3 separate regions of the Homo sapiens genome follow, and all the other regions are linked to region 1. Evidence: fine-mapped expression QTL. Tissue or cell type: whole blood. Region 1 holds a variant in brackets; each other region holds the start of a gene. Each region is shown on its reference strand, or each on the opposite one. Region 1 has its middle 23 kb from the start of ARHGEF3-AS1. Region 2 holds the start of PPBP (pro-platelet basic protein). Region 3 holds the start of CFAP161 (cilia and flagella associated protein 161).

What was found. PIP is the estimated chance that this variant, and not a neighbour inherited with it, causes the effect.
Region 2: it holds the start of PPBP, and the variant in region 1 is fine-mapped to the expression of PPBP in whole blood (TOPMed, PIP 0.96).
Region 3: it holds the start of CFAP161, and the variant in region 1 is fine-mapped to the expression of CFAP161 in whole blood (TOPMed, PIP above 0.99).

What each region holds. Positions count from the first base shown.
Region 1 is chr3:56,911,900-56,922,256 of GRCh38, forward strand. It overlaps a transcript of ARHGEF3 not described here. Among named protein-coding and RNA genes, the nearest start is that of ARHGEF3-AS1, 23 kb to the right of the region's middle. RefSeq lists enhancers at 3,883-4,435, 4,436-4,986, 4,913-5,002 and a silencer at 4,033-4,102. The variant G/A (reference allele first, on the strand shown) is at 4,128.
Region 2 is chr4:73,984,725-73,994,694 of GRCh38, forward strand. PPBP (pro-platelet basic protein) reads right to left here and starts at 3,466. Exons shown (of 3, transcript NM_002704.3): 1 at 3,232-3,466; 2 at 2,793-2,928; 3 at 1,715-2,650. The coding sequence starts at 3,379. The coding sequence ends at 2,548. RefSeq lists enhancers at 119-632, 633-1,145.
Region 3 is chr15:81,128,355-81,138,711 of GRCh38, forward strand. CFAP161 (cilia and flagella associated protein 161) reads left to right here and starts at 5,916. Exons shown (of 7, transcript NM_173528.4): 1 at 5,916-6,044; 2 at 6,916-7,005; 3 at 8,162-8,394; 4 at 9,697-9,781. The coding sequence starts at 5,976.

The sequences.
Region 1 (10,357 bases):
TCCAGCCTGGGCGACAGAGCAAGACTGTCTCTAAAAGAAAAAAAAAATTACATATATATATACACACACATATATATATACACACATATATATATACATATATATGTTCATAAGCAGAATAAAGTAGCTAGTCAGCCAATTACATTTTGAGTTCTAGTTGATATCCTTGGGAAATGTGTACTTAAACACATTCATTAAATCATTCATTAAATCATTCATTAAATCATTTGACTTTGAAGTAGGGCAGATATGAAAACTATTTTTGACTTTTTGTGCAAGATATTTGCATACTTTAGATTCATATCTGAGCTAAAATGAGTTTAGAGACATCTCTGATTTGACAAGTGGGGAAACTGAGTCCAGAGAAAGTAGTGACTTGTCATAGGTGCCTCTTACTTAGGCACTAACTGGACCACAGCAAACATTCACCAAAATGGGATAACTTACCAAATCATTGGAAAGCAAAGTGTTACTGCAGATGTTGCACATAATAGGAGATCTGGGAAGGACCCCACATTAAAGTTATCACATAGCACCTAATGGCTAAAAACATCATTTCTGAATCCATTCTTCCTGGGTTTGAAACCTGATCCACTACTTAACCATGTAGGTGACCTAGACAAATTATTTATCTTCTGTAAATCTCAGTTTTGCCATCTGCAAAACAAGAATAATGATAGTAGCCAATCCCTACAGTGTTGTAAGACTTTCATGAGCAAATCTGAGTAAAGTGTTTAGATAAGCATCTAATAAATGTAAGTTATTATCGTATTATATTGTTATTAACATTGTATTAACTATCACTGACATGTAATCAATCATTTGAATATTGTCAACTTTCATACTTGAAAGACTCAAAAATTATTCTTTGTCAAGAGAACAAATAGTGAGGTGAGTGAGATGGGGAAAGGCTGAAATTACCCCAGTCACATCAAAGTATTAAAAATATACATCTGGGGGGCATGCAGTGGCCTGCGTCTATAATCCTAGCACTTTGGAAGGCCAAGGTGGGATGATCACTTAAGGCCAGGAGTTCAAGACGAGCCTGGGCAACATTGCAATACCTGGTCTTGACAAAAAAGTTAAAAAATTAGCTGGGTATGGTGGTGCATACCTGTAGTCCCAGCTACTCAGGAGGCTGAGGTGGGAAGACTGCTTGAGCCCAGGAGTTCAAGGCTGCAGTGAGCTATGATTGTGCCACTGCACTCGAGCCTGGGCTCGAGCAAGGCAGAGCAAGACCTTGTCTCCTAAAAAAAAAAACAACAACAACAACAAAAAAAACTATGTCTAAACAATGTCAACAAAACAAAGAGACAACACAAAGAATGGGATAATATATTTGCATATAATATATCTGAAAAGAGATTAATATTCAGAATATGTAGAGAACTCCTAAAACTCAATAGCAAAAAAAATAAGCAACCCAATTCGAAAGTGAGCAAAGGACTTGAACAGACATTTCTGCAAAGAAGACATACAAATGGCCAATAATGCACACGAAGAGATGCTCAACATCACTAATAATCAGAGAAATTCAAATCAAAACTACAAGGTGATACCACTTCACACCTATTAGAATGGCTACTATTGAAAAAAAATCAAAATTAGAAGTGTTGGTGAGGATGTGGAGAAACTGGAACCCTTGTGCACTGTAGGTGGGAATATAAAATGGAATAGCCATTGTGGAAAACAGTATGGCGGTTACTCAAAACATTCAAAATAGAATTACTGTATGTTCTAGCAATTCTACTTCTGGGTATATACTCAAAAAAACTGAAAGCAGGTGGCAGGAATGTAAACTAGTACAACTGCTATGGAAAACAGTGTGGAGACTCCTTAAAGAATTAAAAGTAGATCTACCATTTGATTCAGCAATCCCACTACTGGCTATCTACCCAGAGGAAAAGAAGTCATTATACGAAAAAGATACTTGCACATGCATGTTTATAGCAACACAATTCGCAACTGCAAAATCATGGAACACCCATCAATCGAGGAGTGGATAAATAAACCGTGGTATATTTATACAATGGAATACTACTCAGCCATAAAAAGGAATGAATTAACGGCATTGCAGCAACCTGGATGAGACTGGAGACTATTATTCTAAGTGAAGTAACTCAGGAATGGAAAACCAAACAACGTATGATCTCACTGATATGTGGGAGTTAAGCTATGAGGACGCAAAGGCATAAGAATGATATAATGGACTTTGGGGACTTGAGGGGAAGGGTGAGAGAGGAGTGAGGGATAAAAGACTACAAATAGGTTGCAGTGTATGCTGCTTGGATGATGGGTGCAACAAAATTTCACAAATCACTACCAAAGAACTTACTCATGTAACCAAATACTAGCTGTACTCTAATGACTTATGGGAAAAAAATTGAAAGCAGGGTCTTAAGAGATATTTGTACATTCATGTTCATAGCAGCATTATTCACAACAGCTAAAACATGAAAGCAACCCAAGGCCCATCCAAGGATGAATGGATAAGCAAAATGTGGTATGTCACCGTTTAACAATATTAATTGACAAGAAAAACTGTTTAATGTGGGGCATGCAGTAAACAGCTCTCAAATCTTTCAGCCTTGTAATACAGAGGGTAGTTTTCAATCACTATTAGAGGTAATAATGAAATGCAAAATATGTACTACATATAATCATGCAATAGTGTCGTATATTCACAGAGAAATTGAGTATTTGTTTCTCTGTTAACCTTCAGAGCTCCACGCAATATTACCACCATGTACAATAACGGAATATTCTTAAAGGAAGGGAATTCTGACACACGTTACAACTTGAATGAACCCAGAGGACATTATGCAAAGTGAAATAAGCCAGTCAAAAAAAGACAAATACTGTTTGACTCTACTTATATGAGATACTTAGAGTAATCAAAATCACAGAGACAGAAAGTAGAATGGTGGTTGCCAGGGGATGGGGGAGGGAAGAATGGAGAGTTATTGTTTAACGAGTATAGAGTTTCAGTTTGCAAGGTGAAAAGAGTTCTGGAGATGGATGGTGGTGATGGTTGCACAACATTATGAATGTATTTAATATCACAAAACTATATACTTAAAATAGTCAAGATGGTAAATTATGTGTTATATGTATTTTACCACAATAAAAAAAATTGAAAAAAAATTAGTATGTCTAGAATGGTCATACACAAGAGCTGGAATTAGGGTTACAGAAATCAGTCCCAGGAACATAGTTCTGATGAGAAGAATAGAAAAAGCAATGGGCATTGCCTTTAAAAAACAGTTTTGGCAGGCCAGGTGCAGTGGCTCATGCCTCTAACCCCAGCACTTTGGGAGGCTGAAGCTTGAGCTCAAGGAGGATTGCTTGAGCTCAGAGTTTAAGATGAGCCTGAGCAACATAGTAAGACCCACGTCTCCACAAAAAAAAATGAAATAATTAGCAGGGCATGGTGGTGTATGCCTGTAGTCCCAGCTACTCGGGAGGCTGAGGCAAGAGGACTGCTTGAGCCCGGGCGGTCAAGGTTGCAGTGAGCCGTGATTGTGCCACTATATTCCAGCGTGGATGACAGAGCAAGATTCTGTCTCAAAAAACAAAAACAAACAAACAAATAAAGAACAGTTTTGGCTCATCCAAAACTTTAACAACTACCTCTACAAAAAACAAATAAATAAAAGGGATAGGGAATGTAACCTTCAGAGCTCCTAACCATTCTTCAACCCATGGAAATATAACATTTCCAGACACTCTTTCCAAAATAACCCAAACCAAAAAACGATGTTCTTAATGAGAATGGTATCAAGTCTGAGTCTCCACTGATAATATCTGACTTCACTCTCCCAATAATAAACAGACTCAAAACACCAGGATCACTTTAGGGAAATCTACAAAACAGTTGCTCCAACCAGCATGAACTTCTAAAACTGAGTTTAGCCATCTTCCAATCCAAAGAAAAAGAGAAGATCTTGGAAATCCACTTTGTGATTAAATAGCAACAACAAAACAGAAGGCAGATGCATCCTTCTTTTCCCTCTTTTCCTTCCCATTAATTAAAACCATTCTCTTACAAAAATTAAAACAGTAGCATTGCACAGCAGAGCGTGAAAAGCCCTTCCCTTTGTTCCCCTCCAATCACTTATGCTAAAGGA[G/A]GCCCTGACAGCTATGCACGCCACTCAGCTCACCCTCGCAACCAAGCAAAGCCATCTGCGGTCTTAAACACAGCCACACAGTGCTCTTCTGATTCATACGAAAGTGAGGCGGGAATCTGGCTCCATCATCCCAGGTGCTTTTAACAGCAGCTCCCTGATCAGTTTCTTGGAAGGTAAAGAGAACACTGCATCCTCCCACACCTCAGATCCTGGCACCACCCCACCCGGCTCGGGTGGGAGTTGAGAGCCGGCCCATCCCAGGCTCAGCAGCAGGGGGCTTACCTGCGAACGGACAAAGAGGCAGCACCACACCATGGGGCGCTCTGACCTCATCCACCCGGACTCACCGGCTCCTAACTGCAGTGGAGCCCTGTGCACAGGATTCTCTGAACAGGGCTGAGCATAGTTTCCCTGAAGGAACTCCTCCCCGCCACTTGGGCTGCATGACAGGAAGTGACAGGGGCCATCAGTTACAAGTGTCAGAGGCTGAGAGCCGCACCAGTCAAGAGCTCCCCACCTCTCCTGCTACTGCTGCTTTTGCAGAGCACTCTTTGGGCATTCAAAGGTACACCAGAAGTTCAGTTTCTGACTGACAATCCCCAGCCTGTAAGAGACAAACAGTGCTCACTGGGTCCCCACCAAAAGCAATGTGAAGCATCCCATCGGCTGCAGCGGCTGTGCTGCCTGGAGCTTTGCAGACCCAAACACTGGGGTGAAATAGAAAATAAAGCATCACTAGGAGAAGGGACACTGGGAGGAGAGCTTTGGGTCTTCAAAGAGGAATCAATGATCTACTTGAACTTTACCCAAGAATCAGTAGCCCTGTCCGGGATACAGAGCCCACACTGAGTCGCGGTTCAAAAGCAACTACACACCCATCCGTTTCTTTTTGTCTTATGCAAACCTGGCATCTTCTCTTCAGAGCCCTTTCAAAATAGCTGCTTCTGGAAACCTCCCTTTCAACTTTTGTCATGGATAACAAGAGGTCTTCCTGCTCAGAGCTATTATGGAAATAATTCATGGCTGACATTTCTTGTTTTATGAAGTGGGGATCTCACCAGAATGAACATCTTGCTCCAGTTCCTTGCCTTATAAAAAACCCAGACCTCTTGGGTGAGGTAGACTTGTCTCATAGGAAACTACAAGGTTTCAGATTGAAAACTATGCCTGGCTCACTCCTTCCCCACAAACAAACCAGCACTCTCACCCTCCTTGCACATTGGCAGAAGGTCTCAAACTCAAGGAGACATAACTCCAGTGTAGTTCTCAATTATTTATTTATTTATTTTAGTTATCTAATGGGGTAGTATTTGACTTGCAAAAATCTTCCTAATTACAAATTTTAGCTGTTAAGATTTAGCCCAGGGTTTCCTGGGGCCTTCTTACAAATGCACGGATTTTTAAGAGCCTTCCTCTGTCTCAAGCCTGAGTAAAGTCTGGGGACCCAGCAAAGACAGCAGGTTCATTTGAACAACAAGCTTCCGGTCTAACAGAAGGAGATTAAATCCAAGACTTTTATGAGAAAGCAGGCTCTTTCCATTCACGTTGCCAGAAATTTGCAAAAAGTGCTGAGGGGTCCAGGAAATAAGTGAGCTTGGCAAATGCATTTTCATGGGGACAAAGTCTGAGAAGGGTTCTCAGAGCCAGAGACACATGGGCAGCGTTCTGATGGGTGTTCTAGGCAAAAGAACTGGCAAACTCAACAGCAAGGCAGTGCAGAACTACAGGGTATTTTGGAAGACACCAAGTACTTTAATAGGTCTGGAAGCTGAACTGACAGGCTTGGGTCTTGCTTCAAAAAGTGTGAGGGAATCACACCTGCTTAGAGAAAGGAGGAAGTGAAATCACTGTAAAAAGCCTTACGCCTTTCAGGCAAGCATCTGGGTCACCATGGAGCTAGCACCTGGAAGCACTCGGTAATGAGTGTCAGATCAAATGACAGTGTCCACTGAGAGGTGGGTTTCAGATTGTCCTTGGGATTCCCTATTTCCTAAAGCCTGACTCCCCACAAAGCAAGCTGGTTAAGTGGTGGCTGGTGGAGGGGTAAGGGCAGGTATTCCTAAGGCGTCTTGTTCCAGCCTCCTACACAGGAAGGGTCCTAAATTTGAACAAGCCTGTAAACAACTTGAGATTAGCTAGCTTTGGGGACAATTCAGCCGATGAAGAAAGACAGTGCCCTGGGAAATGCGGGAGGCTCCATCACCCAGCCATTCCTCTCTTGGAGTATTTTCTGACAAGCCACTTCAAGGAGTCCCAGCAGCCAAGGCCAGCCTCACCCCAGTAAGGATTCACTGGAAATGTGAGACGACCAGGGCATTGTACGTTTTATTTCTTTGGAGAGGAGGAAGGAAACATTCACATGAACAAATCCTAGAATGATTCAACCTAACTTCCGGCTGCTGACTGAATGGGAAAGAAGAACTGAAACCCGTGGGCTGCAGCACTTCGTGCAAGAGGTGAAACTTGAGGGGCTCCAGGGCAGGTAGCAGTGGAGCAGGGAGGGGCAGAGAGAGGGCCAACAGATGCCCTGGCAGGGGAAAGGGATGCAAGCCTGCAAAAAGGAAGCAAAAACAGGGCACGGCCGTCTCCTCTGATGCCCTTGCTCTGACCAGAAGCAAGAACTCCCGGATTGAAATGGGTCCATGAAGAAGGCACTTCAAGAGGAGAATTTCAATAGTAAGAGGCTCTGATCCGCAAGGTCCACGTTCATTTTGAGCTTTATAATGGGATATCAAAAGGAACAGGAGTCTTCTCTATGGCATCTAGGATACTACTAAGTATTCAAACATGTTTATGTATTGGTTTTTACATTTTAATAGTAACATAGCATCACTGTCACACATTCGAACCACACAGAAGTATACACATTCAAACCACAAAGAAGTATATAAAGTAAAAAGTGAGTCTTCCCAAAGGCCCTACTTTTTTTTCTATCCCGATCCCATTTGCTGGATGCACTGGTGTTAAAAAGCCAGACGTAGACAGAGGTTCATAAACCCAAAAGGATTTAGGAGCAGGGGTCAGGTACCTGAAAGAAAAGGCCAGGTGGGCACTGGGGCACCACTGAGAGTTTTTGTCTTAGGTCAGTTCCAGCTTTTCGGGTTCCTAAGGGGTTAATCATCCAGGGTGAGCAGACATTCTAATTTTTTCAATAGAAGCCTGAAATTCAGGGTTTTATGTAAAATCTCTCAATTTGTAAATGCTGGCAACTATTCATCACCATAAGAAGTACTGTATGGGCCACATAACACAGTTGCTGGCTACATTTGGCCCAGGGGCCACCAGTTTGCACCCTCTGGTGGTAATCCTTCCAGACATTTCCTTCTGTCTAAAAACACGAGTTGCTGGGTGTAACATCTTATTTTTTTCAAAAATAGAATGATAACATTGTTCTACCACTTGCTTCTTTTTTCATTTAACATCCAGGGCATCTTTCCCTGTCACGCACATTTTTGACCTCTTACTGCAGAGCATGCTATGGTATGGAAGGAAATTAACTCATTTAGCCACCTGCCCTGTGGACATTTAGCAAATACGAAAGATACACTTGAAATGTCACTTCTCATTGTCCATTCCTCTTACCTCTGCCAATGTTGATAACTCATGATGAAAGTGCACCTGTGTGTGGATATTAACATATCATACAGCCACAATTACTGAAACCACAGCGACTAAGGATTTTTTATGTTTTAATATGAGCACTTACCATGTATTTTCCCACGTGATCCTCACAACAGTCCCAAAGTAGGCCTTATTATTATCTTTCTTTTTGCAGATTTAAAAAAACTGAGACTCAAAAAGGTGGTGTACGCCTACCCATGGCACGTGGCCTAGAGGTGGTGAGGTTGGTCAGGAGTGGGGCCTAGCAAGCTTACTTCAGAGCTCCTGCTACAAGCATACAGCCCTCAGAAGACACAGCGAGAAACCTGCTCTGGGATATTCAAGAATCTGACATATTAGAGCACAAACCACTAGAGAAGGATCGCTAACAATGGGACAATTCACTTGCCTCTTGGAATGAAAAGCCTCATTTTAAAGCCCTTCTTCATACTCATCCAACATAAATTCTACATAGATTGGAGAGAAATGTTAAAAGGGGGAAAAAAACCTACAAAATTCTGGGGGCATAGGTTTTCAGGGTATGGTATTTTTCTTTCAGTATATAGAGTTGAATCATATATTTATACACAGGAAACTACCTATAGGGTGCCTACGATGCAAAGATGAACCCTGTTTTCCCACAGCTGGTTAAATAACCAAACTGGTAACAACCCCTCTTGTTGGGCTCTAAAGAGATTAGCACCAAAACTGGGACCTAACTAAGGTGTCACCAAAAGTGTCATGGTATCACTAGAACCAGAACCATGTTTCCTGTGTTCTTGTTCGATATATCTGAGGGTATTTTCTGTTGAGAAGTTCCAAGCAATTTCCTTACCAAAGATATTATAAGGAACATACTCGTCAGGGTTGTGAGAATTTCATTTACATAAAATAAAATATTTAGATTTTAGCAGAATTACTTCTTCATTAAAAGTTGGCAAGCAACGATGATTCTTTCCATTTGAACTTTATCCTGGTTCCTTAATGTCTTTCTTATTTGTACTTAACAAGCCAGAAATGTCACAAAATCTTACAGTTGGAAAGGGAATTTCAAGGTCTTTAAACATACCCCATTTGATACTTCAAATTTTAAAATTCCACAAACTGAATTTAAAAATAGGTAGTAAAAAAATCTCATGGCCAAGGCCGGGCACGATGGCTCATGCCTGTAATCCCAGCACTTTGGGAGGCCGAGGCGGGCAGATCACGAGGTCAGGAGATCAAGATCATCCTGGCTAACGTGGTGAAACCCTGTCTCTACTAAAAATACAAAAAAAAATTAGCCAGGCGTGGTGGCGGGCACCTGTAGTCCCAGCTACTCAGGAGGCTGAGGCAGGAGAATGATGTGAACCTGGGAGGCGGAGCTTGCAGTGAGCCGAGATTGCACCACTGCACTCCAGCCTGGGTGACAGAGCGAGACTCCATCTCAAAAAAAAAAAAAAAAAAAAAAACTCATGGGCCAGTGCAGTGGCTCACACCTGTAATCCCAGTGGTTAGGGAGGCAGAGACATGAGGATGGCTTGAGCCCGGGAGTTCAAGACCTGCCTGGACAACATGGTGAGACCCTATTCTCCATAAAAAGAAAAAAAAAAAGACCAAAAAAAAAAAGGTTGGAAAAAATCTCAAATGGGATGGTAGCCGTGACCAAATTAAAATAATATATTGCACACTGGCTTACCCAAGGTTCCAACATCATAAGATTATTAGTTCTCAGATCTTAGGTTTCTAAGACTGTTGTCAAATTTAGGTAAGACTAAGGAAAAACAAAAATTCAAAAACAAATTCAGGTAACACTAAGGAAAAACAAAATTTGGGTGTTACTAGGTTATCAGGGAGGCATAAAGCACAGCAAGCCAGTGAGAAATAAAAAGAATATCAAATTAGAGCCTGAGAGTTGCTCACAGTCATGCACTTTTATTGAATGTCTTTATCTACTCCTCAAAGCTGGAAGGGTGGTTAATCCAAGTAAAACCTGAACAATTCCTCTGCCTGCTTCACCATGAACTCTAGACAAATGGAGCAGCGGTGTCCAGACACTTTCCCAGGCCAAGGCCTATTGGACTCAAGGTGGTTCAACTCAAGAGACTGTGAACATTTGAAAATGTTGATGCTCTTGGAGAGCCCTGCTTAGTATCCCAGCTCAACAAGATTATAAAATGATGAGAAGAATGTGGGAGCAGACCTGGCTGCTCAAGGTCAAGAATGAATAAATAGAAAAGTCTTCATCTATGGTTTCAACACAGGAACTAAAAATAAATGATGCTGGAACATGGAAGTCTCAACGATTGCTAGTCATGGCTAATCTTGAGTGCTTATCTTACTGGTTTTGTTACAAGCAATCGCCTGAGCTCTGTCTTTATTCTCTCTAAACAAATCTGAACTTTTATAACCAGATTCCTCACATTATTTTGGCAACTGATACATGGGCAGCTATTTTTAAAAGTGAATGCAAAAAAAAAAAAGGAAAGCTGATGTATGCTGTGAAGCAGCCACCGGCCTGGCCGCTGCGGTTCTGCCTCCTTGACTAACACAAGAAGCAAGGGCCACCTGAAGAATTTCTGCATGAAGCACACAGGGGCCGCTTGCAAATAAGCTCATCCAGTTTATTTCTTAGAAACATAAACACCCTG
Region 2 (9,970 bases), not on the chromosome of region 1:
GCGTTTAAAGTGTTATTACGAAAGTCAAAAAGTTTAAAAATTAAGAAGTTTATAAATAAAAAACACAGTAATCTAAGGTTAATTTATTGTTGAGGAAAAAATATTTTTTATAAATTTAGTGTAGCCTAAGTGTGTACAGTGTTTACAAAGCCTAAAGAAGTGTACAGTCATGTCCTAGGCCTTCACATTCACTCACCACTCACACTCCGACTCATCCAGAGCCACTTCCAGTCCTACAAGCTCCATTTGTGGTAACTGCCCTACAGAGGTGTACCATTTTACTCTTTTATACCATAATTTTACTATATCTTTCTACATTTACAGATGTTTAGATACTCAGATATTCACCATTGTGTTACAACTTCCTATGGTATTCAGCACTGTAACATGCTGTACAGGCTTATAGCCTAGGAGCAATAGGCTGTACTATATAGCCTAGGTTTGTAGTAGGCTATACCATTTAGGTTTGTGTAAGCACACCCTGTGATGTTCACACAATGACAAAATCACCTAATGATGCATTTCTCGGAATGTATCCCAATTGTTAAGCAAAACATGACTGTATTTTTGAATATCCTGTATCCAACACAATGGCTGTTGCAGAATGTTTTGTAATTCATATGTGTTTATGAACCTGAAACTTGAAGCCCCTTCTGAGTTAACAGCAGAGAGAATGAAGGGGAGGGATGATTTTGCATATGGATGGGCAACACGCTGGGTTTTTACAGTCTTACACCCAGATTTTAATGTTTGCAGTGTAAAGGAATCCAGGTGGTCCTGAGTGGCAACTGAATCATTCTTTCTCTGCATGTAAACAGAGTAACTCAATACATGCACTCAAAAACAGAAGACATCTGCATCTCGGGAGGTATAAGCATGGTGTCAACACTGTGCCATGTCTCAGGAGCTGGTCTTGTCAAGTTTCAGTGGGAAACCACTAAACATAATGAGTGAGATGCCTGATACCCTATAATTATTATAGTATATACAGTATGCTATTTATGTATCAAGTTGTATTACATGTGTGAATAATACTATGTTATATGTAATGTAATCTCTTCATTAGAGAAAGAAGAGTTGAGGAAAGCACTGTGGTGTGGTGGTTAAGAGCACAATTTGAAATTCCCACTCTGTTACCTACTTAGTTATCTGAAAGTGGGCAAGTATTTTAAACTCTATAAACTTGATTTTTCTCTTCTGTAACACTGGGGAGGATAATAATAATCATAAGAAATAATTACTAACATTTATGTGTGGCTTATTTATGACACACATTATTTTAAATACCTTAAATTTATTAACTTTTTTAATCCTTCCATAAACTCTATGAGGGAGGCAATATTATCCCCATTTTAGGGATGAAGAACCTAAGGTACAGAGAAATTAAGCAACATGACCTGATATACACAGCTAACAAGTGGCAGAGCCAGGTTACCTCATTATTCAAACTCCAGAGGATGTTCTTTTAACCAGATCATATCTATCTTTTAAAAAATTGTTTAGTTCATGCATGGAAAACACTTAGTATTCCTGGCATATTAAAATGATTAATAAATTGGAACTGTTATCATACTACATTAAGAATGACACCGATCATCAATTTAGTAACTTTTGTTGTTCAAACTGTGAAATACCAAGTATACAAAAAAGAGAGGAAAATTAAAGCTTTTTTTCCCCAACAATCCTGTTAAAATTAATAATAGATGACAACAAGTCAATAGCAAATTTTTATTTCATGTGAATATTTTTGTAAGAATAGTGTGGGTATAAGTTTTAGGGTTTAAAAAATGAATGAAAGTTCTGTTGATGAAAAAAGTAGAATTTAGAATTAGGAGTCTAGTAAGGTTGAAGTCCTATATTGTACTTATTTATAAGGCTCATTCTAATGATAGAATTATAACTATGTAGATATGTTAATTCATTTTCATCATCTATTTTTGTTCTACTAGTGGCAAATATATTCACTTTAAACCAGCTAACCACAGTTTATAAGATTCATATTCACCAATTTATTATTTTAGTGTTTGATGGCTAAAATAAACATCAGAATAAACTTTCAGGGAGTATTTTAAATAAGACATCCTAGGACTAAGACACTGAGAGACTCCATTAAGTTCCTAAATATATTAACAAAAATGTATTGAGCAAATATTCTCTGTTGGGCTCCATGTAATTCCTATTATCATTGACCATTATGAAATCTAATAATACCCATGAGTATGTCTAATAACCATAAAGTAGACCAGGAAAAATCAACCAAGTTGTGTTAGAATAGAAATTTTTAAAGAAAAAAATGCAAAGTACAGTCCAATGTTTAGGCAAGAATTAGAGGGTTGAAACCAGGCTTATTTATTTTCATCTTCTTTCTGCCATCTTTTAACCAACCTTCTCAGAATAAAATGTGATTTTTGAGACAGAATGAAACACATATCCAAATTTTAATACAGTAAGAATAGGTATCCTGAATAAATGAGAACTCTAGAAAATCAAGGTTTCAAAATTCTACCCTTCCTGGGAGTTAAAGAAGTTTGGCAGAAACAGAACAAATTAATCAGCAGATTCATCACCTGCCAATTTTTTCTGTACAATTTTCTTGATTCTGGGAGCATCTGGGTCCAGGCAGATTTTCCTCCCATCCTTCAGTGTGGCTCTGCAAAAGAGAACAGGGTTATCTGTGGGTGTCCTGATCTGAATATCAGAACTAATCCATGAGACTGGAGGAAACGAGTGCATATGTGGATGGAGGTAGAGGGTTTCTCTGATAAGGCAATAGCACAGAAACAGCAACTTACATCACTTCGACTTGGTTGCAATGGGTTCCTTTCCCGATCACTTCCAAACTTTGGATGTTTTTGGGATGAATTCCAGAGGTTGTCTTTATACACATGCAGCGGAGTTCAGCATACAAGTCACTGTCTAGACTTTCCTCTAGGGTAGAAAATGTGACCTATTGGTGGTCATGAATATTTTCCTCAGGTCTCTTATTTGCAGATTGAGGGCAATTGTACCTCTCTCATAAAGCCATTGTGAATATGATCTGTAACGCTTTAGTAAAGTGCCCAGAAGATTGCCCAGCACACAAGAAGTGAGAAGTGACCCCCCTGTGTGTCTCCTCCAATTGGAGTTATTGGTATAATGGCCCTCTCCAGCCCCAAAGGCACCAAGCTAGTCTTTACCCCAGAGACAGGTGTAGCAGAAGCAGCAACAAGTGCAGAGAAGCAGGGCCTCTACCTTTGCCTTTCGCCAAGTTTCTCTTAGTTTGTCCTTTGGTGGAGGAAGCCAGAGCAGTCAGCAGCAATGACAGAAGCAGCAGCACCTGCAAGGCATGAAGTGGTCTCGCACTGTTACAGGAAGGGGTGGTATCAAGTCTGAGGCTCATGGTGGAGAAGGCTGAGCTAGAGTTGTTTCCAGAACCAGAAGACCTCTGAGTGAGGGTGAGTTGCTGCCTACAAGTCTGCAGATAAGTGGCTTCTCATGCCCTGAAGATGTCATTTATATGCTCTTTCTCAAAGCCAGTAAGAAGGAAGAGGTAGGAAAGGAGGAAGTGAGGGTATGTGGTGATACACACATAAGCATTTGAAGCTGTGCCCAACCCAGAGAAAGACCAGACAGGTCAAATTCCTACTAACTTGCTTAATGTGCATCACTTCACATTCCCACTCTCCCTTTCTCAATACTTATCTTCCTTACACCTGTGTAAGAACTCCGTTCAGGAAGGTAAGAACTAGACTGAAATACTACATGCATTTTCTTTGTATGATTTATAACAATACGCCCTGCCTTTTCTATACTGCAGTTTTTAGGCTTAATAGAAACTTTAGGAGCACCTGAAGGCACAAACATGTGGCCCTTGAAAGAGAAAGTTATCTTTGCTTGCCAAAGAAAGCAAATGTTCTTTTCATGAATGTTGATAAATATTGGGATTGGTTTGGAGCATGTAAGTAAAATAAGAGCCAATTACCGTCAAAGGTTGTCTTTGGATTTTAGCTTATTGGATTCTTTCTGCCTTCAATCTATATTATCTTTTGTAATTTCATCTAGAAACTACAAATGAAACTCATCCTCCTTTATATTACAAAAGAAGCTACTTGTTTCTACCACCTAAGAATACCTAAAAAGTAGGACCCAGCATATTTATTTTTCTTTTTATTTTTAATTTAACAGAAAAATTATATAATTTATTGCAAAAGATTCGTATGCTGCAGATGTCTTTGAAATAAAACACAAATTTCTCTTCATCATTTCTCCACATTCCTACTATTCAGTGGTAAACACTGGTAACAATTTTGCATTAGTTTTCAATTCTGTCTGCACTTATATGCACACATGTATATGTATACAATGAGACACGTTTAAGACATAGAGGTACACATATACATAGAAGTATTGTATATGGATCACTATACAGCTGACTTTTATCCTTCAAAAAATATGTGTTCCTTATCTTTTCAGGTCATCTTAATGTAGTTTTCCCCCATTCTTCTTAATGACCATGTGACGTCCTGTGATAAGAACAATAGTTACTCAACCTTGCCTTGTTGGTGCCCTTCACGGTGTTTCCAATTTTGCACTATTAGAAATTGTGCAAGAAATGTCCTTACCAAGGAAAATATTTGTTCCTGAATTCTCAGACCCAAATTAAAGGTTTTGGTCTGAAATGCTATATCCCTACAAAGATAGAGAGGTGGACCTACACATTACATGTTGGCTTTATGTTATTTTCTGGTTCTCTGTCCCATCTGTAAGACTTCCTTCCTCAATTGAACCATGCACTTTTGTAGGGAGTGGCATGTCCTGTGTTTGTTTGAATGTCTCATGTATCCTATAACATGTAGGATACTTCAATATAAAGTAGGTCTTAAATAATTAATAAATCAATGAATACGTATCACATGAAAGCTTCCCTATCCTTTCTAATCACCTACAATTCCAGGCCAAACTCGACAGGACCCAAAGCAACTATGCTATTTAAATTTATTTGGAAGATTGTCAATAAAGAAGAGGCAGATGTAAGTGGCACTGGCAACAAGTTTTCTTCCTTTTACAACTATGTATAAGTCTCACAGAATATTATTTAAATTTTCCATATTCTTTTCTTACTTTTCATATCCTTAAATTTTAGAAGAAATGCTTAAAATACTAAATGTTCAAAATTACTCTCTATCAAAAAGATGAATATAGTAATTTTTTAAATCATGTTTTTGTTTTCAAGCCAATTTTCCCTATTGTTTAATAGTTATCTACTATGTCTACTCAAGTTCTCAGGTCCTGTTTTTAAATGCGATAACCTACAGACCACATTTGACAGTTTACTTTAGAAGTAAGCAGACTTCCAAATTAACTCGCCCTGGAAAGGTTTCGTGACTTGATGGTGACATTCTATCTCTGAGTAAAGTATTTTATTACGAGTTCCTCAAATGATTGATGTACTAATTACTGTAGAACCTACTGACACTAAATAGGACAATGATTTATTTCTAAGTTTAGCTGAAACAAAAAGTTTTATTGATTGTTTTGTATGTAGACATTTAGCCTGTATGCTGTAATCTGTAGCTAATGATTTTAACTTCGGTATTGTACCCTCCAATGAAAAAGAAGACAACTCTGGTATGAGGAGTTTTTCTGCCTTATTTTAAGCTTTTCTATTATATAAAGCCCTTGTAACTTGTGAAAGACTCTAGAACACCCCCAACTTTGTGGATGTGTCTTCCCAGGTCTGTCTTCCCAGTTGGCTTTCAATAAACATGTATAAAATTATTTCTGCCTCACTAGCCTTAGTTTCAGTTGATGAATGTATTTCTTATTTTTCTCCACCTCATTTATTGTTTTCTTTAAATTAGAGTTTAGCAGTAGAGCATATTTAATTGGAATGATTTTTCTCCCTGTCACAACATAGAAATTTCTAGTCTTAAGCAAGCTTAAAGGAAGGGTGTAAGCTGAGAGTTCGGAGTCTTCTGAGAGTTGAGATGTGGAGTTAATTGCAGAGATAAGCTCAGCAGGACACAAAATGAGGGGAGCAGACTTCTTTCTCTTTCCTCCTGTGGGGTGACTTTATAGCTTTTCTTCATTATTGAGATTGAGATATTGTGAATTCGCAAGTCATATACATTTTCAAACATAAGATCAAAGCCATTTCCAGAACAAGATATAAAGGTTTTTTTTTTAACACTATTCATAGTATATTTCATTTTCTGTTCAACACCAAAATACATTGCTGAAAATGTTTATTGGCTTCACTGGACACCTTTTTTCCCCCTACTTAACGTTATCCAGATTTCTTTCCTCGTTCATTAGTAAGATTTCCTAAAAGTTCCTAATCGTTTTAAGAAAACTGTATGAAAAGTTTTCTGAAGTAATGATGCTTTTGAGTGAGTTGATACCAGGAAAAAGGTAGGCTCTTTCCTACCAGGAAACCAACTGGTGGGTTAATACCAGGAAAGAGGTGACTCCAGTATCATGGAGTCATTGTCTTAATCAACAAATGTGGCTTGTCACGAAAGACACATCGTCGGCAAAATTCGTGAGGAAGTAGTAACAGATTTCTTGAGTCATCAAAATTTCTTAAGGATATCAGTCAGCATTTGATATAAAACAATATTTTGCTAGTTTTTATTAACTCAAAAAATATTGATTAAGCATCAGTTGATTAAGCCTGAACTTCCTAACAGGTTTTACGAAGTTCTCTTTGCATGACTTGGTCATTTAATTATTTATTTTTTAAAAGTCAGGCCTAAAATATTTGTGGAAAGCAATGGGATATGAAAAATACTCTACTCTTGCTGCTATGATGACAACTGCTGCTGTTAATTGCTGTTACTGTCATTTGCATCATTCCCTTCCATTTCCACGTTGAGAAACACAGTAAAGATGATGATAAACTGAGTGTACAAAACTGGTTAAAAGATGTTTTTAAAAACTTATTCAGTTAAAAGCATACTGTTATGCAAAATTATTGTTTAAATAAATGCTAGAATTAGAGAAGAGTTATTTTGTTCCTTGTTTTTAAAATAACTTGACAGCCTTTTTATTAATCTTACATTGTCATTGTGGGTTTGTATATGTGTGTGTTGGGGGGTGCTAAGTTATTTTAGCTCTTTTTTCTTTAAGTCATCTTATAAATAGCAGAGTCATGAAGGAAGCAAGCAAATTATCTAAGACTCAAAGCACATTTTATGTTAGCTATTTTAAAAGAAAATATCTAGAGACATTGGAGGACCACTATCTATAAAATTAAGGCATAAATGACTTCTCTGCCTCACACAGAACATTTTTAACGCACATTTCCCAAATCCTTCTTTCAAGTATGAAGGAAATAGACTAGCACAAGCAAATCAATCATAAAAGCAATTAGTACCAAAAATGCTAAGGATAGTACAATGTTGAGTCTGTTCATTAAAGTATCTTAATCAATAAATTTAAAATACTAGCCATCAAAAGTTTTTCTGTAAGGGCTGAAACCAAATGTGCTTACTGTATAACTATGAGTTGACAAGAATTGTTCAGATGTGAATTGAGGTTTTACTGTCTACTGCCCAGAGGTGAAGCATGGGGTGAAAATGGGAGGACAGTGGGGAGGGTGAAGAAGTTGAGGGGAAGTATCTTTCTGGGCGCTATTATATACAATACTTCAAAGTTTTGCCAGACTCAGAATTTGTGTTTTAAATTATGTTGATTAATATCATTTGTTAAATCTCAAATATATGAAAGTTACCTAGTTTCCTTACATGCTCATTCATTAAGGAAATTCTAACATAATGTTCTAGAGCATTGTTAACAAGTACCATTAATCCTCTTTTGTTGTGTAATAAGTCGACCTCATTGTTAGTGGCTTAAAATATTAATTTATTGTTTCTGATAATTCTGTATGTTAGCGTGAGTTTCTTCTGCTAAGCTCACTTGAGTGCAGTCAAGAGCAGCTGAAATGGCTGAAATAAAGAGTGGGACAATAGGGTGACAATAGTCAATAATAACTTAATTGTACATTTTAAAATAACTCATAAAGAATGTAACTGGATTGTTCGTAACCCAAAGGATAAATGCTTGAGGGGATGGATACCTAATTCTCAATATGCTTATTTCACATTGCATGCCTGTATCAAAACAGCTCATGTACCCCATACATATATACAGCTACTATGTACCCACAACATTTTCTTAAGAATAAGAAAAATAATAAAATAATTTAAAACAACATTTTAATGGCTTAATTCACATGAGAGGTTGTTGGTGTTGGCTGCTGGTTGTGATTTCTACTGGGGCACCTGCGTTCTTCTCCTACTCTTTTAAATATAATTATTTAACTTCTCACTAATAAGCAGAAATGAGGAATGGCGGGAGAGAAGGAGAGTAGGCAAGGGAAGGGGAGGGAAGAGAAGAAGAAGGAAAAGGAGAGAAGGAAGAAAATAGAAAGGAAAAAACAGGCAAGTCATAGTCCCTTCCAACACCCTCCTCCTCTCATCCTTGTCTCCTCTAGTCTTCTCTTTTCTAGTTCTTCCCCTCACCTCTTCTCCCCTTTCTTCCACTCTTCTTACTGGAAAATATTTGTTCTGTGGGAAAACTGAGTATATTTGCAGCAGAAAACCTTAACTTAGACTGAAAGTTCCTCATCTTTATAATTTCCAGATCATAAGGATCCTACAAAGATAATAGGCATGTAACAGGATTATCGATTAATATCAATAAATTAATATTTGATTGATGAATACTTATACAAAGGAAAATACATCATATATTTTGATAGGTACTATGTAATTGACAGAAAATATACAGAGAGTATATTGTTTCCAGAGCTTCTTTAAAAGACTCTGGTGGCTTATGCCTGTAATCCCAGCACTTTGGGAGGATGAGGCGGGCAGATCATGAGGTCAAGAGATCAAGACCATCCTGGCCAACATGGTGAAACCCCATCTCTGCTAAAACTACAAAAATATTAGCTGGGCAGGGTGGCACGCACCTGTAGTCCCTGCTACTCTGGAGGCCGAGGCAAGAGAATCACTTGATCCTGGGAGGCAGAGGTTGCAGTGAGCCAAGATCATGCCACTGCACTCCAGCCTGGGCGACAGTGAGACTTGGTCTCAAAAAAAAAAAAAAAAAAAAAAAAAGACTCATAGCCTATTCTAATATATACAAGTACATGCCAATATAAACATGTATAATGTAATCCAACTGGAGTGTGAATGTATGTACATACATACTAATATGATTAATCTTCTTTCTTTCCTTTTCTTGTGTTTCATAAAAGAGCAATTTCATATAAATACCTATTCTTAGGTATTTATATAGTAAATTTGAGGGACAAGGGAAGTTGAAGTACTGATCAAGATTGGGATGAGACAGAACCTCATTTGTCATTTAGATAGGGAAATGTTAAGTATAACCTAAGAATATGTATTTAAATGAAATTGCTCTTTTAATTTTAGAGTGACAAGGGGACTTGTTTAGCCAAAATCACTTGCTTTTTGAATACCTAGTATGTGCTAGGCACTGTCCTAGGAACTGAGATGAAGTTGATAAGCATTGTCCCCGCCCTCATGAGGCTTACATGAAGCTAGAACAGAGAGACCTTAAACGGATGACAATAAACACACAGGCTCAATAAACTCTACAGTAACTTCGGTGAGAAAACTTCATGAAGGAAAAGTACAGAATGCTATGAGAGGGTATAAAAGGGTCCTCCTCAAAGGTAGGAGTAAGGGTTGGAGAGGTTTCCTCAAGAAAGTAAAAGGCAAGCTATTCCAGAAGGAAGGATGGTAGCTACCCTGGTAAAAGTGAGGGGAGGTATTATAGATTGAGAGGATTGTGCATGCCAAACTCCTTGTTGGACTACTGCTAGACAAGGAGAAAAGAGGGTAAACAAGTTATAATTTAATTAAAACCGAGCAGGGTGGCTCATGCCTGTAATCCCAACACTTTGGAGGCTGAGGCGGGCTGATGACCTGAGATCAGGATTTCAAGACCACCCTGGCCAACA
Region 3 (10,357 bases), not on the chromosome of region 1:
TAAGTTTATGTAATAGTCTAAATCCTTTGTTGTCATTTCAGCAGTGTTATAGTATCTTCACCAGGAGTAGATTCCACCTCCAGAAACCACTTTACTTGTTCATTCATAAGCAGCAACTCCTCCTCAAGACTGCAGCTCCATTTTTAATTCTTCCCAAGAGTGATCTTTTTCAGATTCCACTTCTTCAGGCTCCATTTTTAATTCTAGTTTTCTTGTTATATCCGTGACATCTGCAATTACCTCCTCCATTAAAATATGGAACTCCTCAAAGTCATCCATGAGGATTGAAATCAATTTCTTCCAAACTCTCATTAATGTTGATATTTTGACCTCCTCCCATGAATCACAAATGTTCTTAATGGCATCTAGAATGGCAAATCCTTTCCAGAAAGTTTTCAATTTACTTCACCCAGATTCATCAGAGAAATCACTATCTTTGGCAGCTATGGCCTTAAAAATGTATTTATTGGCTGGTTGTGGTGGTTTATGCCTGTAATCCCAGCACTTTGGCAGGAGAATCGCTTGAACCCAGGAGGCAGAGGTGAGCCAAGATCACGCCACTGCACTCCAGCCTGGACAACACAGCAGGACTCTGTCTCGAGAAAAAAAAAAAAAAGCATTTCTTAAATAATAAGACTTGAAAGTTGAAATTACTTCTTGATCCATGGGCTGCAGAATGGATATTATGTTAGCAATCATGAAAACAATATTAATTTCCTTGTACATCTCCATCAGAGCTCTTGGGTGACTAGGTGCATTGTCAATAAACAGTAATATTTTGAAAGAAATCTTTTTTTTTTTCTAAGCAGTAGATCTCAACAGTGGGCTTAAAATAGTCAGTGAACAAAGCTGCAAACAGATGTGCTGTCATCCAGGCTTTCTTCTTCCAGTTATAGAGCACAGGAAAAGTAGATTTAGCATAATTCTTAAGGGACCTAGTGTATTATTTTGTTTTCATGCTGCTGATAAAGACATCCTGAGACTGGGTGATTTATGAAGAAAAAGAGGTTAATAGACTCATTTCCACATGGCTGGGGAGGCCTCACAATCACGGTGGAAGGTGAAAGGCACATCTCACATGGTGGCAGACAAGAGAAAAAAGAGCTAAATTAAAGGGGAAACCTCTTAAAAAACCATCAGATCTCATGAGACTTATTCACTACCACGAGAACAGTATGGGGAAAACCACCCCCATGATTCAAATATCTGCCACTGGGTCCCTCCCACAACATGTGGGAATTATGGGAGCTACAATTTGAGATGAGATTTGGGTGGTGACACAGCCAAACCATATCACCTAGGATTTTCAGAATAGTAAATGAGCATGGGGTGCATTAGCCACTAACAAGATACTCATCCTGTTCTCTGAAGCTTTGAAGGCAAGCATTAACTTTTTCCTCTATGAAAGTCCTAGATGACATCTTCTAATGTAAGTCTTTTTTGCCTACATTGAAAATCAGGCATTAACTTTTTTCTCTGTGAAAGTCCTAGATGACATCTTCTAATGTAAGGCTTTTTTTGCCTACATTGAAAATCAGGCATTAACTTTTTTCTCTGTGAAAGTCCTAGATGACATCTTCTAATGTAAGGCTTTTTTTTTTTTTTTGCCTATATTGAAAATCTGTTGTTTAGTGCAGCCACCTACATCAATGATCTTAGCCAGATCCTCTGGATAACTTGGTGCAGCCTTTACATCAGAACTTACTGCTTCACTTTGCAGTTTTATGTTATGAAGATGGCTTTTTCCTTAAACCTTCTCTCAGTCTTTATAGACTTGAAAAGAATTAGAGCCTTGTTCTGGATTAGGCTTTGGCTCAAGGGAATGTGGTGGCTCGTCTGACCTTTTATCTAGACCAGTAAAACTTTTTTCATATCAGAAACAGGCTGTTTTACTTTCTTATCATTTGTGTTTTCATTGGAATAGCACTTTTAATTTCCTTCAAGAACTTCTCCTTTGCATTCACAACTTAGCTAACTGCTTTATGCAAGAGGCCCAGCTTTCAGCCTATCTTGGCTTTTGACATGTTTTCCTCACTCAGTTTAATCATATCTAGCTTTTTATTTAAGAGACAGACTTGGCTCACGCCTGTAATCCCAGCACTTTGGGAGGCCGAGGCAGGTGGATCACAAGGTCAGGAGAGTGAGACCATCCTGGCTAACATGGTGAAACTCCCTCTCTACTAAAAATACAAAAAATTAGCTGGGTGTGGTGGCATGCGCCTGTAGTCTCAGCTACTTGGGAGGCTGAGGCAGGAGAATCGCTTGAACCTGGGAGGTGGAGGTTGTAGTGAGCCAAGATCGTGCCACTGCACTCCAGCCTGGGCAACAGAGCGAGACTCCATCTCAAAAACAAAAACAAAAACAAAACAGAGACAGACATTTGGCTCTTCCTTTCACTTGAACACTTGAACACTTAGTGGCCATTTTAGGGTTATTAATTGTCCTAATTTATATATTGTTGTGTCTCAGGGACTGGGAAGGCCTGAGGAGAGGGAGAGAGATGGGGACATGGCTGGTAGGTGGAGCAGTCAGAACACCTAACATTTATTGATTGGATTTGCTATCTTATATGCCCATGGTTCATGGTGCCCCAAACAACTACAATGGCAACATCAAAAATCACTGATCACAGATCACCATAATAGATATAATAATAAGGAAGTTTGAAATATCTTGAGCATTACCAAAATGTGACACAGAGACGTGAAGTGAGCGTATGCTGTTGGAAAAATGGCTCCAACACACTTGCCTGATGCAGGCTTGCCAAAAACCTTCAATTTGTAAAAAAAAAAAAAAAAAAAGAATCAATATCTGCAAAGTGCAATAAAGTGAATTGCAATAAAATGATGTATTCCTGTATCTAAAATGTCTAGTTTTCAACAAAAAATCATGAGACCTGCAAAGAAACAGAAAACTGTGATCCACAGACAGAAAGAAGATAAAAAACAAACAAACAAAAAAGTCAACAGAAACTGCCTTTGACAGAGCCCAGATGTTGGACTTAGCAGACAAAGACTTCAAAGCAGCCATTATAAATATGTTCAAAAAACTAAGGGATACCATGATTAAAGAATTAAAGGAAGGTATGATGATAGTGTTTCATTATGAAATATAAAATATCAATAGAGAGAAATTATAAAATATAACCGAATGTAAATTCTGTAGTTGAAAAGTACCATAACCAAAATAAAAAACTCACTAGCGGAATACAGCAGTAAGTTTGAGCCAGCAAAACAAAAATTTGCAAACTTGAAGACAAATCAATAGAAATTATGCAATCTGAAGAACAGAGAGAAAAAAATGAAGAAAAACAAATAGCATCTTGGAGGAATGCAGGATATCAGTAAGTGCATCAATATACACATGATGGGAGTTTCATAAAGACAGAAGACAGACAAAGGATCAGAAAAAATATTCCAAACAATAAGGCCTGAAAATTCCCCAAATTTGATGAAAAGAGCATTAATTTACATATTCAGGCAGCTCAAGCAGGATAAAAGAAAAGAGGTCAATATCCAAATATATCTAGTTAAAATATTAAAGACAAAGACAAAAAAAATCTTGAAAGCAGCAAGAGTATGTGTAAGGGAAGCAAAATAAGATTAATAGCTGATTTCTCATCAGAAATAATGGAGGCCATGGCTGGGCAGGGTGGCTTATGCCTGTAATCCCAGCACTTTGGAAGGCTGAGGAGGGCCGATCACTTGAGGTCAGGAGTTCAAGACCAGCCTGGCCAACCTGGTAAAACCCCATCTCTACTAAAAATACAAAAATTACCCAGGCATGGTGGCACATGCCTTTAGCCCCAGGTACTCAGGAGGCTGAGGCATGAGAATTGCTTGAACCTGGGAAGCAGAGGTTGCAGTGAGCCGAGATTGTGCTGCTGTACTCCAGCCAGGTTGATAGAGTGAGACTCTGTCTTGGAAGAAAAAGAAATAAGGGAGTCCAGAGGTAGTAGGATGGCATATTTAAAATATTGAAAGAAAGAAAAAAACGCTATCAACAAAGAATCATGTATCCAGAAAAAGCATCTTATTAAGGTAAGCAAAAACCAAGAGAATGTGTTGCTAGCAGACCTGATTTATAAGAAATATGGAAGGAAGTTATTCAGGTTGAAAACAACACAAAGCAGTAATTTGTGTTCATAGAAAAATACCATAGAGCACCAATAAAGATATTTCTTCTCCTGAGTGATTTAAAGCAATTGTATAAAACACTATGTATAATTGTATTATTGGGTCTATTATATATAGAAATGTAATATACTTGTCAAAAATAGCACTAAGGAAGTAGGTGGGAGCAAAGCTGTATCAGTGTAAGGACTTACTGAATGACCCAATCATTAGAACCTTGTTAAAAATGTAGAGACTAGAGCTGCTTTGTTTTATTCTTGATTTTATGAGGAATATGAAAAATACTTAAAAGGAAAAACAAACAAACATGACTTTGGAGTCGGAAAGTTTGGACTGAGTCCTTTCTTTGAGCAACTTTTAGCAGTTTGAATTTAGACTGCTAGCTTCTTTGAGTCTCAGTTTCTGAATTTATCAAATGCAGTTAGTGGTATACTATCTGATCTAACTGCTTTGTCCTATGTGTCCTTCAGAAGTATCCTCGAATGTGGTGATATATTGACAGAGCTGGTGGATTCATCAGAATGTGGGAATGTTCCTATTTTTATTCTACACTTCAGCCTGCCAGTTCAAATCCTTCCCAGTTCAGCTCCAAAGCAGCCCCTCTCCCATCACTCAAAGGCCATCCAATTCCCATTCTCACAGTTCCTCAAGACAGAAAGGATCCTTCAACTCCATGGCCCTTCATCAGCATATATATATATATATATATATATATATATATATATATATATATATATGTATTTTTTTTTAAATTGGAGATGGGGTCTCACTATGTTGCCCAGGCTGGTCTAGAACTCCTGGGCTCAAGTGATCCTCCTGCCTCGGCTTCCCAAAGTGCTGGATTATAGGCTTGAGCCACCACGCCAGCCCATCAGCACATCTTTAATTGCATTTTTCCACAGTCTTCCTTAAGTAATTCGTTTTCATGAACTATCTTTTCTTTTAGACTGGGTTTGCTGAAGGGAGCGGAGGCTCCTGTCTTCCATTTCAGTCATGTCTTACTAGACACTAAATAGAGGTAAATTACTGAATGCATTCAATCTGCATCAAGCCTCCGGTAGTCCTACAGTAACTGGTATCCCTCCCCTCCCCAGAAAATAATATTTTGTTTTATTAATGCTGGCTACAGCAGAGTCTGGTTTTCTTAAGAGTTCCTGCAAATCACAGGTTCGTCCTTTAACTTTGAGACCCAGGGAAGGAGGGAGCAAGGGAGGGAGGGAGGGAGGATGCTGTCAAGTCCGCAAAAATATGGACAACCTCAGAAACCTATAAACAGAAATATACTAACATGGTATATTTCTTACTTTTAAGGCCCTGAAATTATTAATTTTCCTTTCTTCTTTCTATGCGATTTTGGTTTCCAAATGTGTACATTGAGCAGGTATTGTTTTATGATTAGGGCGAAATTGCTGCTGCTGCTGCTGCTGCTGCTGCTGCTGATTACAAAAAATAGGCTGCAAGCAAGCCGTGCTTCCATTTAAAAGCTCCTCTTTGTTGCCTCGACAAGCAAGGGGTACTCGATAGCACTTTTCGGTTAGATTCTAATAGAAAGAAAGCTTTAAATTTCTCTCTCGGAAGCACTTTGTCAGCCAGGGTTTTCCCTCTCGCCCACCCTGCAGTTAAGGAAATCTAAGAGGTGGAAGTGGGGCGGGCTGGAGGGCCACAGACAGCCGCTGACCCAGACGCCCCATCTCCCGCCCCAGGGCGAGGGTGCGCGCTGTCGCTTATTGGCCAGCAGGGTCCCAGACCTTGACCAATCGCCTGGGGCCGGGTCGTCATGGCGACGCGCCACGCTAACGCATGGTGTCGGAGGGAGGCCCACTTGCTGAACAGCAGGGAGCGATGGCGCAGAACGTGTATGGTCCGGGAGTCCGGATAGGCAACTGGAATGAGGATGTCTACCTGGAGGAGGTACGCAGGGTGTGGCCAGGCGCAGACCCGCAGCTCAGGAACTCCCAGACCCTGCTCTAAGTTCAGTCTCCTACTTTGAGCGCCTCAAGCCTCCTCTCTCTCCCAGCATACAGCGAATACCTCTAAAATCCCCCACTTCTCTAAACTCCCAAGGAATCTCACCTGCCGAACTGCAAACCCAGGTCTCACTGACCTCTACTCCGAGCACCCTGACTTTTCTTTCTCTGGGTCCCTTGGCCTCCCAAAGTCAGATGCCTTGACTCTCAAGCCCCTGGCCTGTGTCTCCCGCTTAGTCTAGAGCCCCACTAAGTCCCCCGTATTCCTTAGAGTCTTACAGTCTCAGGCTGCGGGCCAGGTGAGGACACAGGTTCTAGGTAGAAATAATATCCCTCCCCACTCCAACCCTGCCACGCTTGCCCTCTTAAATGACCCTGAGTATTCCTTTTATTGACGTTGTACTCACTCACTGCCTCGTATTCTCCCAAGGGTGGTCTTAACAAGGCTTTGAGCCATTCGTATACGGGTCAGATTGGGGAGGGGTGAACTTTCTAGTGTCAGTCATCATACGGTCAAGGGAAACCCCAGCAGGGGAGACATGGCCTCCAAATGTCATTTAGGATGGTATCTGGCTGGAGTAATTACTGGTGATGTTTCTTTTTCTTTGTTTTGCCTTTCTCATTTTTCTAAACATTCTATAATGTAGTAAAAATATTAAAGTAGTGCTAAAAACGTTCCATCATTCCAATTATGCTCACATCTCTTTTTTTGTACTCAAATTTTGCTTTTTCAACTTGGAAGAGCTTCTGACCTAAAAGTTATTAATACTAACATCTATATTATTCAGGGCTACTTTTGTTGATTTTCTGTTTAGGAGCTCATGAAAGACTTCTTAGAGAAGAGAGACAAGGGGAAACTTCTCATACAGAGAAGTAGAAGACTAAAACAGAATCTCTTGAGACCGGTAACTTTTTTTTTTTTTATTACACTTTAAGTTTTAGGGTACATGTGCACAACGTGCAGGTTTGTTACATATGTATACATATGCTATGTTGGTGTGCTGCACCCATTAACTCGTCATTTAACATTAGGTATATCTCCTAATGCTATCCCTCTCCCCTCCCCCCACCCCACAACAGGCCCCAGTGTGCGATGTTCCCCTTCCTGTGTCCATGTGTTCTCCATTGTTCAATTCCCACCTATGAGTGAGAATATGCGGTGTTTGGTTTTCTGTCCCTGCGATAGTTTGCTCAGAATGATGGTTTCCAGCTTCATCCATGTCCCTACAAAGGACATGAACTCATCATTTTTTATGGCTGCATAGTATTCCATGGTGTATATGTGCCACATTTTCTTAATCCAGTCTATCGTTGTTGGACATTTAGGTTGGTTCCAAGTCTTTGCTATTGTGAATAGTGCCGCAGTTGGTGGGACTGTAAACTAGTTCAACCATTGTGGAAGTCAGTGTGGCAATTCCTCAGGGATCTAGAACTAGAAATACCATTTGACCCAGACATCCCATTACTGGGTATATACCCAAAGGATTATAAAACATGCTGCTATAAAGACACATGCACACGTATGTTTATTGAGACCGGTAACTTTAAATTCAGACATTGTTTTCAAAATTCTGTTGAACTTGGTGTGAGTATATGTTAAGCAAGAAAAAAATTTCATAACTGAGTTACCATTTGGAAAATAACAGTTTTTAAAAACAATTTGCAATGTTTTAAATTCTTCTAAGATTTTAGAAACATAAACAGTCTGCCCTAAATCATGTTTACCTGCATTTTACAAATAAAGAAATAAATGAGTTAATATGTAAATAAGTAAAATGCCCCTTAGTTGGTAATCGACAAATTTTTCAATGAATGTTGAATTTCTAGGATAATGAGTAAATCCATGTGATTTTAACCAGCTTTATTCGACTTCATTTGGAATTATTGGGAGCTTTGCCTTGGCAAAGGGGAAGGGAAAGGAAGAAGGAACTAAGGGTTCGAGGGAATCCAAGTGAAATCCTGAATGAAATGGGTACTAGTCCGAGAAGGAAGAAAATTGCCTTGGCAGTAACTGTTGAGGAATTGCATGGTTTATGTAATAAACTACTATCAAAATTGTAGATGCAACTTTCCGTAACTGAAGATGGCTATATTCATTACGGTGACAAAGTGATGCTTGTGAATCCTGATGATCCTGACACAGAAGCTGATGTGTTTCTGCGTGGGGACCTGAGCCTGTGTATGACTCCAGATGAAATTCAGTCCCATCTGAAAGACGAATTAGAGGTACCCTGTGGCCTGAGCGCAGTTCAAGCCAAGACCCCAATTGGCAGAAACACTTTTATCATTTTGAGGTAAAGAGACTTTAATTTTCAGTTCATTTTCATCATAAATATGTTTCACTTGTAGCTTAAAGATTCCTGGGTATTGGAGCCACTGAGTGGAGGGAAAGGTTTTGTGAACATTTTTCGTGATTTTCATCTTGCTTTGCTTACCTTGAGAATTATTGTCAAAGGAACTTTACAATCCCTTTTTACCTTAGACAGCAGGATAATTGTGTTCAATTCAAAATGCTTAAATCATGAGTATAGGATCCAGGGAATTAAATCCATATTCTGCCTGGAAGCAAAGTAGGTTTTCCCTATAACATTTTGGAACTTTTTGAGCTCATTTGAGTGTTTTCATTGTTCTTAATACGGCTATTTTTTTTTTTACAATAAAAACGTGTAGTTTAATACAATGTGGCACTAGATGGGATTTTCTCTTTTAAAATTAACTGTCCATTAAAAATGTATTTGAAGAGATTTTGAAAATGAACAATTAAATCCTTAGAGAAGAAATAGATACATGATCACAATTAAAAACTATTACTAATTCGTATGACAGCAATGTAAGCATTGCAAGAATATATGGACCCAGGCAAGGTACAGTGGCTCATGCCTGTAATCCCAATACTTTGGGAAGTCAAGGCAGGCAGATCACCTGAGGTCTGGAGTTCGAGACCAGCCTGGCCAACATGTCGAAACCCCATCTCTACAAAAAATACAAAAAATTAGCTGGGCGTGGTGGCAGGCTCCTGTAATTCCAGCTACTTGTGTCACTGAAGCATGAGAATCACTTGAACCTGGGAGGTGGAGGTTGCAGTGAGCCAAGATTGCACCACTGAACTCCAGCCTGGGGGAAAAAAAAGAATATATAGACAGTTCTTCAAGTTCTAATTTAGATTTCCTTTGAATACATATGTTAAGACAAGTAAAAATTGATCACAACCTCTGTTATCCTGAAGGATTAAGAGGGAACCGTATTAAATGTCTACAAATGTGTTACCTTGGTTCTCTCTGAACATGTCAATGCACTTGACCAGAATTCCTTAGTATACATTAGCAAGATGTGCTTAGTTTACTCTAACCAGAGGCTCACAAAGTGGGGATGCTTTGTGTGCTAGCTATGGTGCAGGGCAGGGAGTAGGGTGCTAGCTGGATTTTAAGACCAAAAGAAAACACCTTTTATTTAATTACCTAATTCAGTTACAGTATGTGAATATAAATTATCAAAAAACTGATTATAAACAAAATTGCATGCATAAAAAATAGAGTCATAGAATGATTCTAATACAGAGAGTTTACATTTACATTATACTTATTGTCCACTGACAGTGTACACAGAGATGCCACTGGTCAAGTCCTTAGATATGGGCAGGACTTTTGCCTGGGGATAACAGGAGGATTTGACAACAAAATGGTGAGTTATCACTTTGCATATCTACTTTGGATCAGTCATTTCTGTTGCCCAAAATGGGATCATAACTATCTACTGAAGTGGACAGAGAACTCCAGAGTCATGGGCTCCACCTCTGACTTCACTATGGTGTCAGCTTGCAGCTTTTCACAGGCAGTTTTGGGCCAAGCCAGTCTTTCCTTTTAACTTCCCAAATTACAAAAACTACACCCTTAAAACCTAAACAGTAAGGGAGGAAAACCATTTCACAATGCAGCTGGCAAAAAGCAAAAGTTTATACCACTTCCACCTGTAAATTAAATGATTGAATTCATTAATAACCATCTGATACCTGTCAAATGTTGCCAATGCTAGCAAGGCATATTATCTGACAACTTTTTTATTTAAACTTTTGATGATCAGACTTTTGCTTAGTATGGGAGTAGGGACAATATGAGATGCTTAAATTTGCATAAATCAGGGAGCCTTGGGGATTAGGAAGTATAATAGAACCAGATAGATTTGGGTTTGAATTTCAGGTGCGTACCTATGGGATGGGAATTTGGGTAAGTTATTTAATGCTTTTTGAGCCTGTTTCTC